Linked DNA regions of Homo sapiens: all the other regions are linked to region 1. Evidence: fine-mapped expression QTL. A gene starts in region 1. Each other region holds a variant in brackets. All regions are shown on one strand. Distances are from middle to middle.

What was found. PIP is the estimated chance that this variant, and not a neighbour inherited with it, causes the effect.
Region 2: its variant is fine-mapped to the expression of NUFIP2 in whole blood (TOPMed, PIP 0.97).
Region 3: its variant is fine-mapped to the expression of NUFIP2 in whole blood (TOPMed, PIP 0.99).
Region 4: its variant is fine-mapped to the expression of NUFIP2 in CD4 T cells (CEDAR, PIP 0.95).

What each region holds. Positions count from the first base shown.
Region 1 is chr17:29,292,248-29,297,399 of GRCh38, forward strand. It overlaps NUFIP2 (nuclear FMR1 interacting protein 2), which reads right to left and starts at 1,901. Exons shown (of 4, transcript NM_020772.3): 1 at 1,536-1,901. The coding sequence starts at 1,812. RefSeq lists silencers at 570-749, 1,380-1,499 and enhancers at 1,206-1,966, 1,660-1,759, 2,070-2,269.
Region 2 is chr17:29,249,379-29,254,530 of GRCh38, forward strand. It overlaps CRYBA1 (crystallin beta A1), which reads left to right. Exons shown (of 6, transcript NM_005208.5): 3 at 804-922; 4 at 2,686-2,827; 5 at 4,262-4,404; 6 at 4,824-5,116. The coding sequence ends at 4,971. Among named protein-coding and RNA genes, the nearest start is that of CRYBA1, 5.1 kb to the left of the region's middle. The variant C/T (reference allele first, on the strand shown) is at 2,615.
Region 3 is chr17:29,259,600-29,264,751 of GRCh38, forward strand. NUFIP2 (nuclear FMR1 interacting protein 2) reads right to left here. Exons shown (of 4, transcript NM_020772.3): 4 at 1-4,992. The coding sequence ends at 4,940. Among named protein-coding and RNA genes, the nearest start is that of CRYBA1, 15 kb to the left of the region's middle. The variant C/A (reference allele first, on the strand shown) is at 2,189.
Region 4 is chr17:29,234,126-29,239,277 of GRCh38, forward strand. No RefSeq gene overlaps it. Among named protein-coding and RNA genes, the nearest start is that of CRYBA1, 10 kb to the right of the region's middle. The variant C/T (reference allele first, on the strand shown) is at 2,870.

The DNA of each region.
Region 1 (5,152 bases):
ATGAGCCACTTGGGTTCACCCTTAAGGACAAGAAAGAGGGGTCAAAAAGCTCGCACTCTTCCCCATCCTAACATTTTTTAAAATCCCTCACCTCAAAGACACTACCCAAGCTCAGAAGGTAAGTGCTGGGTCGGGAGGGGAATGGAACAAGGTTTTTGGATTTTTTTTTTTTTTTTGTAGAAAATGAGCTGCTAGAAGGAAAAGGCCCAAGTGAAAGCCTCAGAGGCGGAGTCGTGAGCGAACCTGGCAGGAGACGAGGTTCCTGTGGCAGAGAAACTCGTGACCGGGGAGCTGGGTTCCCGCTGGGTACCCCACCCGGCCTCAGGCACCGCCTCTACCCGAAATGAATCCCCCCGCCGCCCCCCCAGGCCTCCTGCCTCTAGGAGCGCCGCGGCCGCCGCCCGCGGCCTCCTTCCCTCTCAGCTCCGCTTCGAGGCCGGCTCCCCGCCCCGACTGCCCGCGCCTCCCGCCGCACCCGGGAGCGGGAAACGCGGCCGCTGGCGCGCGGGGCCCTGCGCAGGCCGCTCCCCTCGTGGCCGCTTCCCTCCCCCACCCCAACCGCCCCCGCCCCTCACCCCAGGGACCCGCCCGGGGCCGCGCGCCGCCACCGGGTTACACAACCCCGGCCGGCGACGGGGGGGGGGGCGGCCGCGGTGCGGGGGGCGCCGGCGCCCCCGCAGTGCAGGGGGCGAGGCTGCGGCCGGTGGTGATCCCGGGTCACCCGGCTCCGCCGCCCCGTGTGGCCCTCGACACCCTTCCCCCTCCGCTCCTCAGTGGGCCGGAGTCGGTGACAGGAATCGGCTTCCAACATGGCGGACAGGAAGCGGCCCCGCGAGGAGGAGAGAACATTCCAGCCGCGCCGGCTCTGGGGGGAGCGGGCGCGGGGCGCCGGCCTCGGGAGGAGCCGCGGGACAAGACTGCGGGGTCCGGCGCCCAAAAAGGGCGTTTAGTGGTGGAAATGACCCGTGAGATGAGGGGTCCCAACAGCCCCCCCCACCGAGACGGGGAGCCCCAAGGCCACAGGTGGGCTTGGGGTGGCGGGTGAGGGGCACTTCCTCAACTCACCCTACCTACCCACTCCTCGCCGCCTGCAAAAGGGTCTCGCGACACCATCCGAGTCGGGATTCGCTAGGCCTTCCTGAGTTACACCTCGAGGGATTTTTTGGGGGGGTAGGTTTACCCCATCTCAGGGCCCCCAAATTGAGGTAACTCCAGGGACGCAGGGAGGTGAATGGGAAAAGAATAATGAGGTTGGACTTGCAAGGCCGACCCAGCAGGTCTCCCTTCAGCCGGGGCCGGGGCCAGGAAGGTCACGCTGGCCTGGCTGGGCCTCTCCCATGCTGGAGGGAAGGAGAGGGCGCTGCAAACCCCATTGCTCAGCCCGAGCTCTAGAATGAAAGGGGCATCCCCAGAGCCGGAGGGGACACACACACACACACCCCGACCCCGTCCGCGCTTTTCGGATCCAGCCCCACCCCCATCTCTCCTGTCCTCCACCCCCAACCCCCTTCCCCCACCCGTCCTCCCTCCCAGACCTGTTTTCTTCTTCGGCGTTTCCTGGTGCTGCTGGAGGGTGTGTTTCTGCTCATGTTTCAGCGGCTTTGGCTGGGCCTTGGGGCTGCCCTCGGCTCCATGCTGCAGGTATTGGTGAGGCTGCTGGTGATGATGGTGGTGGTGGTGGTTGTGGCTGTGGTTGTAGAAATAATAATGGTGGTGGTGGTGCGGCTGCTGCTGCTGCTGCTGAGGGTGATGGTGCGGATGGTGGTGGCTGTGATGGTGCTGAGGCTGTGGCTGGCCGGGCTTCTCCTCCATTGAAAGCGGCTGGGACTCCCTGGCTGAGGCTGCGGGCTGCTGCACCGTCAGGATCTGAGACTGCTTCTCAGGGCTCACTCAGTATATCTGAGCGCGTCTCGCCAGCGCACTGGTTAACCGAGCGATTCTGCGAGATTGGCAGCCGCACTCCAACAATCAGGAGCCACGCTGTGCCGCAAGCCCCGCCCCCAGCTCAAATCCTCTTTCCTTCCCCTTCGCCGCTGCCGCCTGGCCAACGCCACTTACCCTGTGCAACCTCACAGGGCCGGGCCTTCAACGTCAGCACTATGGCTCTCTCTTCTGTCGCTTTCTCTCCTTCACCACGCAGTCTGTGAACAGCACTTTCTACACTCCTCGCCGGCAAGCAGGCTCGTGTCGAGGGTAGCAGATTCCACTGGCGATTCCACTGGTGCTGTGAGCCATCTGCTGGCTTTGCACCTCTTAGAATCTGGTGTTTTTTTGTTTTTTGTTTTGTTTTGTTTTTAATCCTTTTCCGGGTAACCAGAAAGGGAAGCTCAATTCCCTTAACCCCGAGACCACTAAAGGGGCAATACAAAAAGAGGAAATAAATACATTTTTAAGCATACAAGAGCTTCACAATCCAGTAGATCATTTTGTATTCTGGATTCATTTTGCTTTGTATTCATATGCTAATCTCTTCCTTTCCACGAAGGGATTATAGGGTTCCACAATGGGGTATCTGTGTAATTTTCTAAAAGGGCACAAAGGGTTTAAATCATTGTTTCTTTGTAGTTGGAGGCAAGGGAGAGCAGGAGGAATGAAAATTTACACTGAAGGTTTTTTTTTTTTTAATTAAACTCTGCAGGTGAGGTCAACTGTGGAACCAAAATAGGTTTTAGAATGAGAAGTTTCAAGAGCAAAGGAAGGGGAGAAAGAGCACTTAAAAGTTATTAAGTGGGTTTGTTTTTTTTTTTTTTGGCACTTATGGAAAAATTGAAATTAAAAGAAATATTCTGTAGCGTTTTGTAGTGTAGATTTAACTTATCCTGCATTACCACATCACAGTATATGATTTTCAAAAGCAAATGTTAGAGCCATGATAGTGGTTACTCAGGAAGGAAGAGGGTTGTGATGGGGAGGGACACAGGTTACTCTGATAATATTTCATTTTGGGGGCTAGGTGGTGATTACATATATTTGCTTAGTAATTATTTGTTAAACTGAATATACAGATAAAATGCACTTTTCCCAATGTATGTTATAGATTGGGGGATTTTTTTAATTGTAAAATATTCATAATATAAAATTTACCATCTTAATATTAAGTGTATGGTTCAGGTGCATTAGGTACATTCGTATTGTTGTAGAACCATGACCATCATCTATCTCCAGAACTTTTTCATCATTCCAAACTGAAACTTCATACCCAATAAAAATAAATGTCCTTTCCCTCCTCCTTCCATCCCTTGATAACCACTGTTCTGTTTTCTGTCTCTACGAACTTGACTATTCTAGGTACCTCATATAAGTGGGATTGTACTGTATTTGTCTTTTTGTGACTAGCTTTTTTGCATAATGTCTTCAGAGTAGCATACATCAGAATTTCCCTCTTTTTTAAGGCTGACTAATATTCCATTATATGTATATACCACATTTTGTTCATTCACTCAGCAACGGACATATGGACTGTTTCCTCAATGTATGTTACGTTTTTGAATTTTTAAAATGTGGCTTGAATTCCTACAACAGGACAACATTAAAGGAACAAGAAGCTTGAAAGCAAAAAGTTTATGCTATGAAATTAATGAATGTCAATGCAAAAGCTTATTTAAAACGTAAAAGCTGGTTTCCAATAACAAATGTCATTGAATCCTGAAAACCATGACCAAATTTTGGCATGTTCTATACAGTAAGGATTTGTGTTGCCTTGTTAAATTTTATTTTATTTTATTTTGAGATGGAGTTTTGTCCTTGTTGCCCAGGCTGGAGTGCAATGGCATGATCTCAGCCCACCGCAACCTCTGCCTCCTGGGTTCAAGCAATTCTCCTGCCTCAGCCTCCTGAGTAGCTGGGATTACAGGCATGCGCCACTGTGCCAGGCTAATTTTGTATTTTTAATAGAGATGGGGTTTCTCCATGTTGGCCAGGCTGGTCTCGAACTCCTGATCTCAGGTGATCTGCCCACCTCAGCCTTCCAAAGTGCTGGGATTCATGAGCCACCAGGCCCAGCCAGCTTTGCTAAATTTTAAAGAAAAACCTCTTTGGGGGTACATTTACCCAATTTTGAGAATGAAAACCCTAATAATAATATCATATCACAATAAGTCTTTACCACTGAATAATATTCTGCCACGTTCCCAATTATTAAAGAAAAAACAGGTCAGGTGTGGTGGCTCACACCTGTAATCCCAACGCTTTGGGAGACCATGGCAGATCAGTTGACCCAGCAGTTCGAGACCAGCCTGGGCAACATACAGAGACTCTCTCTCTACAAAAATTTTTAAAAATTAGCCTGGCATGGTGGTGTGTGCCTGTAGTTGGGAGGCTGAGATGGGAGGATGACTTGAGCCCTCCAGGTGGAGGCTGCAGTGAGCTGTGATTGTGCCACTGTACTCCAGTCTGGGCAACAGAGCGAGATCCTGTCTCAAAAAAAAAAAAAGAAGAAGAAAGAAAGAAAAGTATATATACAATTTAAGATTATGTTGGTATTTTTTGTTGACTTAGACATTCAGTTGGAAGGCTTGAATTTCTGAGTTCCAACTTCCCTGTCTAGGTTTTCTACATTATACCTGCAGGCAAACCAAAAGCACTCATTCTGTATTTCTGATTTATCACACTTTTGCCTACCTTTAGCTTTTCACTTACAGTTGTACTGACTGAGTTTAATAAACTAAATCTTATTCTCAGATGCTCTAGTTACTATGAATGTTGCCTTAGTAGTATGCAGTAGTATGAAGAAAGGCTTATGATATAATGTAAGAAAAAAAGCAGAATATTACATTCTTGTATACATTAGAATCATAATCTTGAACACGAATTTTAAAAATAAGAATGGAAATACAACAGTAAAACACAGACCTTTTTTCTTCTTGATTTTTCTGAAGTTGTTTTATATAAAATATAATTGGGATTTGCCAAGAATGTGAAATATTCCATTATAATAATGCCCTTAGCCGGGCGTGGTGGCACACTCCTGTAAACCCAGCACTTTGGGAGGCCAAGGCAGGCGGATCACGAGGTCAGGAGATCGAGACCGTCCTGGCCAACATGGTGAAACCCCGTCTCTACTAAAAATACAAAAATTAGCTGGGCACGGTGGCACATGCCTGTAATCCCAGCTACTCGGGAGGCTGAGGCAGGAGAATCACTTGAACCAGGG
Region 2 (5,152 bases), 43 kb before region 1:
ACTGGACAAAGGAAGGATGACTGTGGATGCCATTGATGGGTGGGAGATGATACCTAGTTTCCTAACTCCTCTCTCCTCCCCACTAAAGTCATCTTAAAATACAGCAGCCCAGCAACAGTTATGTCCATGGAGAAAATGAGGGCCCATAAAGATATTTACTACTAGATCCCAAATAAATTACAGGACTCAGCCTCCCATCCTGAGGTTGGCTTTAACCATTGGCCGAAGTGGCTGATCCTCAGGCCTCTCACTGGCCTCTCTCCAACACTCCCCACTCTCCTCATTGGGTCAACTCTGAGGCCAGCTCACAGCTTTGCGAGTGGTCCTCTGGCCAGGTCCACGAGCCAGGTTTTAGTTCAATGTACAAAAAGGGTTGACCATAACTCTCCTTTACACTCTAGGTTTCTATAGGGGGTATGGCTGGAGAAGCTAAGAATCTATAAGGAGCTCCTGGGACTCCCAGAATCCTGGCCTCTGGGCCATGCTTATGAAGGAACTGTGGTGGAATGGGAGCCCATAAGTCCTTGGCCTGTCCATTGGTCTAGATATTATCCCTGGCAGACCATTTCTATCATAAACCAATCCTCCCTCCACCTCATCCCTACTCTGGGCAAATGAACACCAACCAGTGGCATTAATTCAAACCCCTTCCTGCCCTGTCTACACTGGAAGAGACCTCATCAGGCATCCCAGGCTACAGCTGGTAACAGAAAGCACAGAGTCAGACTGAAGTTAAGCTGTTGACCTGGACCTCTGTTTTTCCTGATGTTCTAGCTCTCTTGCGCCATTCAATCTCATTTCAGATAACCATCTATGATCAGGAGAACTTTCAGGGCAAGAGGATGGAGTTCACCAGCTCCTGTCCAAATGTCTCTGAGCGCAGTTTTGATAATGTCCGGTCCCTGAAGGTGGAAAGTGGCGCGTGAGTATGGACTTCCGCAGAACCGCAGCCCCTTATTTCAGGTCCCTTCAGACAGGGGACCATAGAGTGGGGATAGGGGAAGAAGGATGTTCCCCTAGGCTCTAGTCATTTCTCGGAGACAGGCCTCGAAAGAAATCACTACATGCATAATTTAGTAAGCCAAAGCTAGAAGGAAGGAACATGAGGTTCTTAGTGGCTTGGTACTAGATTTCAGGGGCTGGATAAAGAAATACATACAATGGGGTGGGACAGTGGCAGTAATCAAAATTTTGCTTCTGGAGCTCACAGGCTGCTACCTAGGGTGCCCTCAGAACAGCCACAAGACCCTTGAGTTTTTCTTGCCTGCAGAAAATTGGTAGAGAAGAAAGTGTCAAGTGGCTGCCTCTTCATGGCTAACTCTCCTCCTGCATATCCCAGAGCAGACACTGTTAGCTAATTTCTTTATGAAAAAAAAAACCTTAACCCCACGACTCCAGAGACATATTAGCTCCTGATTCATCTTTCAGGCAGTTTCTTGTTGATGGTTAATCTTGGTGAGGGAGACCCTCTCATTTTTGTCCTCTGACTCTTGGCAGAGTAGTTGAGGCCTTTATCATTAGCCTGAAAATACCTAAGGAAAAGACTCACCCTTGACTAGGCAGAATTGGCCTTGCATGTGGATAGGCTTCCACAAGTTGCTTGCCACCAAAATTAAGCTCTTCAGTCCTTTAAAAGATGTAACACTTTAAGGTGTCATCACTAACTGAGACCCAGTTGTGAAAAACTGAGCTGAGTGTTTCAAGTTTTAAGTACAGGTATGGGGCACTAGGAGAAAGAACTCGCAAGTCACAGGAAGAAAAAAGACTAGTAATCCATCAGTTGCTTGTTCATCCCTGTGCTTTCTTAAGAAGAAGCCAACAGGTTTGGCTTGAGCCAAAGCAATAGTCCAGGGGTGTCTAATCTTTTTGGCTTCCCTAGGCCACACTGAAAGAATTGTCTTGGGCCACATATAAAATACCATAACGATAGCTGATGACCTAACAACAACAAAAACAACTCATAATGTTTTGAGGAAGTTTACAAATTTGTGTTGGGCTGCGTTCAAAGCTGTCCTGAGCTGCATGCAGCCCTTGGGCAACAGGTTGGACAAGCTTGCAACAGTCACTAGATCCTGAAACAGGTAGAGAATAGGTGATTTGGAGAAAAAGAAAAAAAAATTTTTTTTTTTTTTGAGGCAAGGTGTCACTCTGTTGCCCAGGCTGGAGTGCAGTGGCACAATCATGGCTCACTGCAGCCTCCACCTCCAAGGCTCAACCCTCAGCCCCCTGAATAGCTGGGACTGCCAGTAGTGGGTCACCACGCCTGGCTAATTTTTGAGTTTTGTAGACGGGGTTTCGCCATGTTTCCCAGGCTGGTCTCCAACTCATGGGCTCAAGCGATCTGCTTGCCTTGGCCTCCTGAAGCGTTGGAACTACAGGCGTGAGACACCACACCCAGCCAGGAAATATAATTTTAGATTGGCTTTGCTAATACACTTCACTCAGACCAGTGAAGTAGATAGACCTTTTCAGTGATAACCCCCAAACAAATATTACATTCACTAACCTGCTTAGTATACCTGTCAACTCATTCCTCAACTCTTGTGACAAATTACTTTGTACAGCTCTACTGGGATTGGCTTGATATTTTACCCCACTATTGACTTATCTAAAA[C/T]GAAAGATGCCTTCTCCCCAAGGCCATATAGGCTTTGAACACCATGAACAAACACTACATGTCTTTGGCAGCTGGATTGGTTATGAGCATACCAGCTTCTGTGGGCAACAGTTTATCCTGGAGAGAGGAGAATACCCTCGCTGGGATGCCTGGAGTGGGAGTAATGCCTACCACATTGAGCGTCTCATGTCCTTCCGCCCCATCTGTTCAGCTGTGAGTCTCTGAAATTTCCACTTCCGTGCATATGAGGGATGGGACAAGAGGGTGTGGACAGACTGACGTTCATGCTATTTATCATCAGTTATGCTGAATGTGGCAGGAAAAAAGACAAAAGTAAAAAAAGAGAAAACATCACTTTCTTCTCTAAGCCTGCTATTTGATTTTTCTCCACCAGGTGGTACTTCCCTTAAGCTAAAACTAAGGGTCTTACAAGTGGCAATAAGTGGATACTCAAGAGCCCAGTAAACTTGTGAAACACTAGTAAATGAGTGAAAGTGCTTACCCTGCAGCAAAAAGTAAATCCTTGGCCAGTTAAATTTCAATCTGTGTAACATTTTTACTGCAGAAACAGGAAAATGCTGAAGTAACCTTTCAGTAAGTGGGAATGACTGACGAAATAGGCAAGTCTTCCAGTATCGATCTACACTGATTGATAATAATCTTCTTGTTCTGAACACTTAAGTATTACTCAATAATGCATCAGGCTGGGATGTTTCTGGTCTTTGGAAACAGTTCAAGCAGAAAGCAGAATGACCTTAAGGGGTGTGTTGAAAATGATCCCTGTATTAGGAGTTAGGTTGGGCTAGAACCTTTCCAAATATTCAGTCTATGTGAGAGTTTCTCGTGATTTTGGTTAATAATCTCATCTTGGTTCAAAGTCTTGCCAAAATTCAACTGGTGGAGAAGTTAACCTAAATAGTTCTAATCCAAATAAATAGTTGCCTGTCTGGAAATTATTTCAATCTCACTTTTAAAAACATTTCATTTGCCCACCCTAAGGTATAACTGACATACAGTAAAATGCACAGACCCTAAGTGAATATTCTCATGAGTTTTTGAAAAATATATAGATCCATGTAACCAACACCCTAACCATATAAAGAACATTCCATCATAGTTCCCTGGTGTCCCTTTCCACTCAATTGCTCCCCTACCACTTTCTATTACCAAACAGTTTTGTCCATTTTTGAAGTTCATACAGGTTAGTCTCTGTCTTTTTAATGCTTGTGTAGTATTCATGTCCCCTACTGGACATACAGGTTATATCCAACAACACACATACACACGCAAGCGCACACATACATATTTGGGCTTACTTTTTGTAATAATCTGTGAGATCTTTTTTCACATTAGTGAATATTAATCCCTTGGTTGGCTGCATTTTGTTAGTACTTTTTCTCACTGTCAAATCCTCTTCATTGTTCCAAAATAGTATATCAGTTATTTGTACATTCAAAATGTTATGGTATTTAAATTGGAATAAACAAAATTATGGGTAACTTTTTTCTCACAAATCTGTTGCCTTAATCTTTTTAAATTATCATGTGCTTCCTTGTATAATCCAAAAGTGTTTCAATTTTGAAAAACATGAAGAATGATAGCCATAGCACTAGTACTAAACATTTTAAAACAATTTCTGAATTACAGAATCATAAGGAGTCTAAGATGACCATCTTTGAGAAGGAAAACTTTATTGGACGCCAGTGGGAGATCTCTGACGACTACCCCTCCTTGCAAGCCATGGGCTGGTTCAACAACGAAGTCGGCTCCATGAAGATACAAAGTGGGGCGTAAGTACAAAAACAGGGTTGGAATATACTTCAAAGTAACTCCTGAGGTTGCATCAATAGTTATGTTTTAATCAGATTTCATACGTATCGGTATAGATGTCACATTCTAGTTCTACATAATTTTGAATCTCAATTTCTTTATACCAACTACCACTTTAGGTTGCAGATTTATCTCCCCCAGACATGCCTCTATGGAAGAATTTACGTTGACTACTTATACCTGTTTTGATGATTAAGGCTAATTAACTAGCTATAGCCATATTATGCTTACAAATAGTGCCTGACACATTTAGGATGGCTATTTTTTCTAAGCCTAAAAGCATCTCATACCATTGTGTTGAGTAAAGAGGCTCAGGTTTTGGGGTATTAACCAGATTCCTAATTAGTTTTAATAATGAAATGTACTTTGAATTTCCTAGCTGGGTTTGCTACCAATATCCTGGATATCGTGGGTATCAGTATATCTTGGAATGTGACCATCATGGAGGAGACTATAAACATTGGAGAGAGTGGGGCTCTCATGCCCAGACTTCGCAGATCCAATCGATTCGCCGAATCCAACAGTAGCTGATTAAAAGCTCCAAGTACGATAATTCCTCAAGCATGAGACCTTGCTAAGCACTCTAGAATAAGTTTTATGTTCTGCTCACAGACATTGCTTTCAAATGTTAGCTGCTGAAATCCACAATAAACGTCATTTAAAAAAAAAAAACTTTGTAGACTGAATTAACTACCATGCTTCACATAA
Region 3 (5,152 bases), 33 kb before region 1:
GGGATACTGCAGTATTATAAAATGGCTTTAGAACTCTGCACATAACAAAATTGTATGGAAAATAGGGAAGTCTGAATCAGCAATCCCATCACATATGAGGACGGCCATTCCATAGTTTCTAGCCCATAACTGATTTACCATTCCCAATAATGCAAGAGCAACATACCAATCATGCTGCAATGGGTGTTTTTATTATGCAGACAACCGAAAATTCTATTCGCACTATTGCTGGCATCCTTTAACTACTTTAAGACCTTTCTTGAGCGGCAAAACAGTGTGAAATTTAAAACTCAGTAAAGCAATGCTTTTGAGTGGAGCCAATGATTCATCACTCTCCCAGGTGGTCCTGGTTCTCACACAGGTGATGTATATTTTAAAAGAAACATTTTAAGATACCAAAACAGAAGCCCACCCTTTTCACCATGAAAGAATCTTGGTGCTCTGTTGATTAATTACATTAGTAAAAATAACATCGATATTAAGAACTAATGTTAAGCTATGTGCCTCTGGCAAACCTAAAGCAGCTATTTATGCTTCTAGTCTTTTCCTCTGCCTCTCCCTTTTAAACAAATTATCAAAATTTTGTGGCGGGTAAGGGGACAAGAGCAAATCCTACGTTTTCCTTTCAAATCCAACAGTTAAGTCATGGGTAGGGTTATTAAGATACTGCCCTATCAGACTCTACCTTGACTGGTGTGGCATCAACCAATCTGACCATAATGACCATTATATTTGTCCCATAACATAACTGTTCTGCACAGTTAACATATTTATACAAGAGGGATCAGCTGTTGTTGAGGATGTGGCCCAGCGGCATAACTATACTAATAATACCTGGAAATTGGACTTTTAATCTATTTCTCTGAAGAGAGCCTTGTAGGAATGACTCCGTCCTTATTTACAGTGGAATTAAAATTGAGTAAAGTCCATTTCCAATAGCCATTTGATACATGACAATTTCACACTAAATGGCTTATTTAAAAAAGTTCACAGCAATTACAAAAGATAAATCATTAGATGCCTCTGATGTGGGGAAGCAACAAGCCTAACAACCAAGTATGATATTATCACTATGTAATGTTTTTTCAAAATTTTGTATTGTGGACAACTCCCATAGTTGAGGTTTGTCATATTTTCCCTACAAACTGTTATTTGTAAAAACAATGCAGCACTTTTCCTTTATGAAGTTTCTGCAGATTGAGTAATGACTAGGTAAGCAGATGATTAAGGAGGACAACAAAATTCTAAAATGGAGAAACTCTGGCCATTTATTTCAAAGAAAAAAAAATCTGTCATTAAATTCCTAGTTATTGGCTATCCCCTCCTAGAAAGTAGAGGAGGAAGGGCTGGCTACCACAGACGCTGTAAATACACTTTATGTGAAGGTTCATTACTAAGGAGGTTAGAAGAAAGGCTATGTAATTAACTTCAGTTCAGCAAAGTGGGGGTGAATAAAGAGAAAGATAATACACCCTGTGTATTTTGTGGGAAAAGGGGATTATTGAGGACACCTACAAGAGTGGTATGTGACACAGAAGCCTACAATAATCAAAACAGATTTAAAAAGAAATCTTCACCCATAATTAGTATCTTCATAGCTATTAAAAAAATAGGTCATAATTTCATTCTTAGTGCCATTTTTCAATACTACCCTTTTAAGGATTTAAACCACCTGACTTTTTTCTGTGTAATGAAAACAAATGGCACAAAATAAATACAAGTTCATTCTCTGAATACTAATGTCTTATACACATTCATTTACTAATTTTTAATATCTCCATCTTTTCCTCACACACACATACATACATACATAAACACACACACACACACACACCCCTTTTTCAGTCTTTATAATGGAGGGATGTTAAAAATCCCCTCTAGACTGTATTTGGTTTATGCTACAGTACTAATACTCTGAGTTGAAGGAAAATTCTTTATACCAAACAATAACACGTTATTTAAATGTGCTAAATTAATCACAGCTGAAGTTTGTTTAGAAGCTTACACAAAATAATCAGAAAACAGATCAACTCTTAAGATTTTTTTTTAATAAGTGCTCTGTAAGGAATTGTGTGAGGACCTAAGGAGAAAGATTGCAACAAATAGAGTTAAGTGTTACCAAACAGCACAAAGAGATTTGTCCCAAAGTCCTGCTTGTACCTAGGCAATTAAGTCTATTAACCTAATG[C/A]CCCCAAAATACTGACAGTTAATATGATGGGGCACTAGGGTTCTCAGAAAGTTAACAGACATTCCTAACTACATACCTCTAACCATATAATCAAGGAAATTTCAGTGGAGAAATCAAAGTGAAATGTTGCATTGTTTCATTTAGAAGTGAGACTCTCAAAAACCTTTGGACAGACAGAGAAGTGATACATTCTTTTTGGCTTCTCTGAACACTGAGGCCTGAGGGATATGGAAGGAAATTAGAAAAGCAATAGCTTTCTAAAGATGTTTAATCAAGTGTTGCTTCTAAGTTAAAAAGCCCAATTCAGGTGGGGTCTGGGTTTGTTTTTTGTTTTTTCCTTTTCAAATATATACTCAATTCAACCTCTGTATGTCACAAACCCAGAAAGTTTCTTGTGAGTTGTGAGACGGAAGAACTTTAAAATTCCAGGCAAGCAAAATGGACATTTAAAAAAGGGGACTAGAGAGGGGAATCTGGCCCTAAGGCGACAAGTGGTTACACAAGGCAATTGAACACACAGCAGAACTTTAAAACCTGTAAAACAAACTGGAGCCTTTTTTCCCTTTAATCAACCTTATATGTCTTTTTTTTTAACTTTTTGAAAATTTTTATTTAAAAAAACACAAAAACACAGACTTTTTTCACTTCAGTTATGTGGTATGTTGCATTTTCCAGTTTGTTCAATGCTTTAAAGCTCAAGGATGCCTCTGCTTTCAATTGTACATGGGCCTGAAGCATCCTAGCTTTTGGCAAGCAGGCAGGAGACTCAACAAAAATCAAAATAGGAACAAGGCAGACTAAATGCAGGGCACATCTGTAAACATATTATACATTTGAAAATTACAATATCAGTCAAAGTGATACAGTTTACAGGTGAAATGAAACTATCTGGAACTGGCCTACCACAAGTTTCTGAACCTGGACTGATACAATAAGTTATTTTATATATATATATATATATTATGTATAAAAAAAAGTTTTGTTTACATCAAGTGGAATTGGCAATCCATGCTTATACTTTTAAAATCTAAGCAGGGCAGAAATCCAGACTAAAAAGATAGTTACTCTACTCTATGTTGAGTCCAACAGCTTCTTTCATGAACTACTTGTTTTAAAAGCCTCAAATAATCAACAAAACAAGAAAACCCATCCATACTACAGTCACTCAAAACTGGACATTTCTAGGGGTAGAGCCAAAGTAGTTACTTTCTCCCCAAATACCCCAGGGGATCCAGTCTACTTTTATCAGAAGACTACAACTCTTTATATAAATGCCCTGATATTTTAACCTGTATTTGACATACATGGATATACTAATTTCTGTGTGTGTGATGTGATGCTGTGTCAGGCCAGACAACTTGTTATTATGTTACTAACATCACCCAATCTCAATTGGACCCTTAATTTCTGCACACACACACAAAAATTTATTTTAGCATGCTATACACAAGCTGCAGTGCAACAGGATGGCAATGTAATGATAAGACAGGGCTAATGCTCTTCTCTGCCCCAAAGAAAATTTCCAGAATTTCACATTATTTTCCTTAAAAACCCATCTTGCTCTAGTAATAAAATATATTTATTAAGATATAATTAGAAGCTAACAAGCTCAGAAGTATAGTTTGCATGAAAACACACCTTCTACAGTCAGGGTTTATTATCTTCTCACTGGCTAAAAACATGAAAAGTTTTAGTTTTCATGGACTTTTTTCTTCCCCTTTTAGATTTTGCTGAGAAATTAAAAGATAATTTACAGAAAGGTCTAAGTTTGTCTTAAATGTTTGATGAAAAACAAGGAAAACAGCACATTTAGTGTTAGTGACGGAGAGCAAGTCTGGAGCACCTACAGTTGAAAAGCAGAATATATTTTTGCTCCCAGTTATACAATTACATTAAAATATGGGCACAGGAATATTTTTCCAGATTGTATATCTAAGCCAATTGCTTGTTCTGCAACTTTTCTTTAAATGACACGCATAGATTCTTCAGTTGTTAAAGTCCAATATGTAACCGAAGCCAAGTTAACTATGTACCATCAACTAACTATTCCAGAATTGTAGAACTTCAATGCCCTCCCCTATCCCCGCCCCACAAAAAATAAATGGAAAGAAATAAAGTATTTCCCCAACACCCCAGAGGCCGCTTAACTCCTGGCAAGACATGCAAATCATATTCGCTAAAAAAATACACCCTGCTAACTTCAAGGCATTTATCCAGCATTCTCGCAGGGCTTAATTAAAGTAAAACCAAAAAGATCAAGGGAGGAGTGGGGGGAAAATGTTGAATCATTCTGGGTTCCCCGTGATTAGTGTATCACTTCAGTCACAGAACAAGATACAGAGATCTTTTAAGTGGATTTGCCTTTCCAGTGGGTCATTTGTTGCCCAAGTTGATGACAGCAGGAACTTTAGAACCACACTTGTTAAGTCTGTATTCATTAATCACTTGCATTCACACTTAAAAACAAAAACTAACAGAAGAAAAAAAACCTATTCAGTACCGGAGATTAAATAACCATGTGTAGTCTCTTGAAATAAATTTGATTCCTTAAGAAGTCTAATTACTTTCAGTTGCCTTTTTTAAATAACTATATATATATATATGTATATATATATATTTGTATATATTATCCTGTGATTCTACTTATGGTTCCTCTGCTGCGTTGAAGATCTAGGAGCATAAAAGCCTTGTGTCCCCCATGAACGATGGCTCTAATGCTGCAGAAAGGTTACGAATAGGCAGTCTGGTCCTTCATTGATCTGGACTATCCATGGCTTCATTGTAAGTGATTATCCTTTTGGGATCTAGAAAGGTTAAAAAAATAAATAAAAATAAGGTCTAGAATCTCAAAATGCCCGTATTCCAATAACAATCCCAAATAACCATCATTTAAACTGACCAATTTTTTTATGAAAACAAAACTTCAAGCCCATTTCCTCCTTGTACCAACACATGTATGATCCA
Region 4 (5,152 bases), 58 kb before region 1:
AAATTAATAGGGGTTAAAAGCTAAATCAAGGAAATCTCTTAGAAGTCAGAAAAAAAGGCTGAGAGCGGTGGCTCATGCCTGTAATCCCAGCACTTTGGGAGGCCCAGGCAGGAGGATCACTTGAGCCCAGGAGTTTGAGACCAGCTTGGGCAACATGGCAAGACCTCCATCTCTACTAAAAATACAAAAATTAGCCAGGCACGGTGGCGTGCACCTGTGGGCCCAGCTACTCAGGAGGCTGAGGTAGGAGGATCGCTTGAGCCTGGAAGTGGAGGTTGCAGTGATCCAGATCGCGCCACTGTACTCCACCCTGGGCAACAGAGTGAGACTCTGTCTTAAAAAAAAAAAAAAAAAGTCACAAAAAAGACAAAGAAACATAAAATAGTAGAGACATATAAGAAAACTAGAATATCATTTCAGGAGGTCCAACATCCAACCAATAGAAGTTGCAAAAAAACACATTAAATACAAGTGAGAAAATGATTTTTTTAAAAATTACAGGAATATTTCCAAGAATTGAAGAACATAGATTTCCTAAGGTTGGAAAAGTCTACTAAATGCCCGGAAAAATAAAGAAAATAAGATTTTCACCAAAGCATAGCCTCAGGAAATTCAGATTTTTAGGGATTAAAAAAAATCCAAAAACTTTTAGAAAGAAAAAAAAATCTTATACAAAGAATCAGAAATCAAAATAGCATCATACTGGCCAGGCGGTGGGTCACTCCTGTAATCCCAGCACTTTGGGAGGCCGAGGCGGGTGGATCACCTGAGGTTGGGAGTTTGAGACCAGCTTGACCAACATGGAGAAACTCCATCTCTACTAAAAATACAAAATTAGCCGGGCATGGTGGCTCATGCCTGTAATTCCAGCTACTCGGGAGGCTGAAGCCGGAGAATCGCTTGAACCTGGGAGGCGGAGGTTGCAGTGAGCCAAGATCGCGCCATTGCACTCCAGCCTGGGCAACAAGAGTGAAACTCTGTCTCAAAAAAAAAAAAAAAGCATCATACTTCCCAATAGCAACATTGCCCATAGAAGACAAAGGGGAAGTATTTTCACAATTTGTAGAGTACTGTTACCATACTCTATATCCAGCCAAACCTTCAATAAAATGCTGCTGTACAAAAATACATTTTTAGACATCCTGATCTCAAAAAAAGTATCTCTATGTACCATGTCTCAGGACACTATTAGAGAATGTGCTTTACCAAAACAAGAGGATAAACTACGAAAGAGGAAGATATAGGGTTCAACGCTGAAGGCAAGCAAAGGGAATGCCCAGGACATCAGTCAAGAGAAGTCTCTGGGCAGTAGCTACGTACAGGGAGAAAATTCCCCAGATTGGAACCGAACAGAAGCTTCCAGGCTAGGCATGGTGGCTCACACCTGTAATCCCAGCACTTTGGGAAGCCAAGGTGAGCGGATCACTTGAGCCCAGGAGCTTGAGGCCAGCCTGAGCAGCATGGCAAATCCCTGTCTCCACAAAAAATTCAAAAATTAGCTGGGCATGGTGGCATGCATCTGTAGTCCCAACTACTTGGGAGGCTGGGGTGGGAGGCTTCCAGAAAGGAGGTCTCCTGGGGGAAAAATGGAGCTGAGACATGATCTGAGAGGTTCAAATGTAGAATATCATATTAGAAGTATTTTTTTAACCATTTTTTTATTATTATACTTTAAGTTCTAGGGTACATGTGCACAACGTGCAGGTTTGTTACATATGTATACATGTGCCATGTTGGTGTGCTGCACCTGTTAACTCGTCATTTACATTAGGTATATCTCCTAATGCTGTCCCTCCCTACTCCCCCCACCCCTGTGTGACAGGCCCTGGTGTGTGATGTTCCCCACTCTGTGGTAGAAGTATTTAATGAAGATGCTGGGAAACTGAACCTATGAAAAACATTAGGCATTTTCTTAACTCCAGAAAAAGCAAAACATGGTTCAAGAAAGGAAATGTTATTAAATTTTGCCTGGTCAGCAGTGAACAATATTTACAAACTCATAGACAAGGAAATGCTGAATATGGATTTAAGTAAAATTTATAATACATCCATAGGATGGTGGGGAGGGGGAGAGAGCCATAAGAAGGATAAAATCTTTTTTTTTTTTTTTTTGTTTTTTGAGACAAGAGTTTCGCTCTTGTTGCCCAGGCTGGAGTGCAATGGCGCGATCTTGGCTCACCGCAACCTCCACCTCCTGGGTTCAAGTGATTCTCCTGTCTCAGCCTCCTGAGTAGCTGGGATTACAGGCTTGTGCCACCATGCCCAGCTAACTTTTTTATATTTTTAGTAGAGACAGGGTTTCTCCATGTTGGTCAGGCTGGTCTCGAACTCCCAACCTCAGGTAATCCGTCCACCTCAGCCTTCTAAAGTGCTGGTATTACAGGTGTGAGCCACCGTGCCCGGCCCTTTTTTTTTTTTTTTTTTTTTTGAAACAGAGTCTCACTCTGTTGCCCAGGCTGGAGTGCAGTGATGCCATCTCGGCTCACGCAACCTCTGCCTCCTGGGTTCAAGCAATCCTCCTGCCTCAGCCTCCTGAGTAGCTGGAACTATAGGAATGAAACACCATGCCCAGCTAATTTTTTTTTTATTATTTGTAGAGATGGGGTCTCACTATGTTGCCCAGGATGGTTTCAAACTCCAGGGCTCAAGTGATTCTCCCACCACGGCCTCCCAAAGTGCTGGGATTATAGGCATGAGCCACAACGCCTGGCCAGAGGGATAAAATCTTATCTGCCAAAACCTATAATACATAATGTCAAAATTGATGAATACCAGGAAAAAAAAGCTTAAAAAGTTGAAAATGGTAACCTCTGGGCAGAGTAGCTGCTGGGTTTTTAAAAAATATGTAGGCCAGGTGCGGTGGCTCACA[C/T]CTGAAATCCCAACACTTTGGGAGGCCGAGGCGGGTGGAAGATCACTTAAGGTCAGGAGTTTGAGACTAGTCTGGTCAACGTGGTGAAACCCTGTCTCTACTAAAAATACAAAAATTAGCTGGGTGTGGTGGCGGGCACCTGTAATCCCAGCTACTAGGGAGGCTGAGGCAGGAGAATTGCTTAAACCCAGGAGGCAGAGGTTGCAGTGAGCTGAGATCGTGCCATTGCACTCCAGCCTGGGCGACAAGAGCAAAACTCCATCTCAAAAAACAAAAAATAAATAAAAATAAATAAATATATATACATATATTATATACCTTTGATGCACCAAATATTTATCACACAAGAAAATATGACTTCTTAAGTTATACATAATTTTCTAACAAAATATAGCAGTTGCTTTTTAAAATACTAGATAAAAAGGGGCTATTGATTAAATGAAGTTCCTGAGATGGTAGGAAGGTGTATAATCCAGGACAGGAAGTGCTGATCATCTGGGGCTGGAGATAAAGAGGTGAGGTGGGTGTGGTAATAGATACTCCTGCAGGTATTGCAGGTTCTAGGGGCAGAAAGTTGAGGAAATCCATGCCTGATGAAATAGGTTGTAATGTCACCTGCTGGGAGCAAAGGGAGTCTAGGCGTTGAGCAGCTTGAAGACAGTGTGAAGGAACATACACATGGAGCAGGATGTTACTGTGGAAATTTCAGGCTGGGTATGGTGGCTCACACCTGTAATCCCAGTACTTTGGGAAGCCAAGGCATGAGGATCACTTGAAACCAGGAGTTCAAGACCAGCCTGGGCATCATAGTGAGATCCTGTCTCACAAACATTTTTAAAAATTACCCAGGCATAGTGGTGCACACCTGTAGTCCTAGCTACCCAGGAGGTTGAGGTGAGAGGATCACTTAAGTCCAAGAGTTCGAGGCTGCAGTGAGCCATGATCGCACCACTGCACTTCAGCCTGGGTGAGATAGCAAGGTCCTGTCTCTAAAAAAAACAAAAAAGAAAAATCAGCTGAGTCACCAAAGTGGTAGATATTAGAAGCCAAAGTAGTGAGTTGTGCAACAGACCATTATGCAGAAATTTCTTTTTTTTTTTTTCTTTTTTTTTGATACACAGTCCACTCTGTCACCCAGGCTGGAGTACAGTGGCGCGATCTCAGCTCACTGCAACCTCCACCCCCAGAATCAAGCCATTCCCCTGCCTCAGCCTTCCCAGTAGCTAGGATTACAGGTATGTGCCACCATGCCCTGGCTAATTTTTGTATTTTTAGTAGAAACAGGGTTTCACCATGTTGGCCAGGCTGGTCTCCAACTCCTGACCTCAAGTGATTCACCCGCCTCGGCCTTCCAAAGTGCTGCGATTACAGGCATGAGCCATAGTGTGTGGCCTACCCTTCCTTCTTATACCAAGAATATAAAAGAATTGGAGACAGAGGCAGAAAGAAAATTTTGGGAGATAGCTGTGTTGTGAATCCCACTGCCCTTCAGGGGAAGGGGTGAAGGAGCTTCACTGCAAGGCAAAGGAGAAGGCTACGAGGGGCCCACTCTGAAAGCTTAAGATGTGTCCCCTGCAGACTAGAATCTAAAGGTCAGAAGTTAGGCTGGGCAACTGCTGAGGGATGAGGCCAAGCAAAGGAGGCTGATTGAGTAAGAACAAGCCCACATGCCAGAATTGGCCACGGCAAAGCATGTGTGAGTGCTTCCCATGGATGAAAGGGAGGTCATGCCTGAGAGGGAGCTGGAATGGGGTTGTAGCGACTTAGACCTGGAGCACAGATGTGTCCTTAGCAGAATGACACTGGAGGTGACCACCAGGTACCTAGGAGCTGTAGAAGGAACAGGTAGCCAGAGTGGAGATGCATAGACCTAGATCAAAGTTATTGCAGGTGGGGGCTCTCCCAAGAACCATTAAGTGCCCACAAAACTGACAGCTGTGAAGAGTTGCCAGATACAGAGTAGTGTGAAGCCATCTAACCACAGGACCAGTCAAGTAAGAAATTTTCTGCCCTCTTCCTCTCTTGTTCCTTCCACTCCTGGAAGGGTCAGAAACCAGTGAAATAGTGGGAGAAAGAAAAAAGGTTCATGCTGGGCATGGTGGCTCACGCCTGTAATCCCAGCACTTTGGGAGGCCGAGGCAGATGGATCACGAAGTCAGGAGATTGAGACCACGGTGAAACCCCGTCTCTACTAAAAATACAAAAAATTAGCCAGGCGTGGTGGCAGGCGCCTGTAGTCCCAGCTACTCGGGAGGCTGAGGCAGGAGAATGGCGTGAACCCGG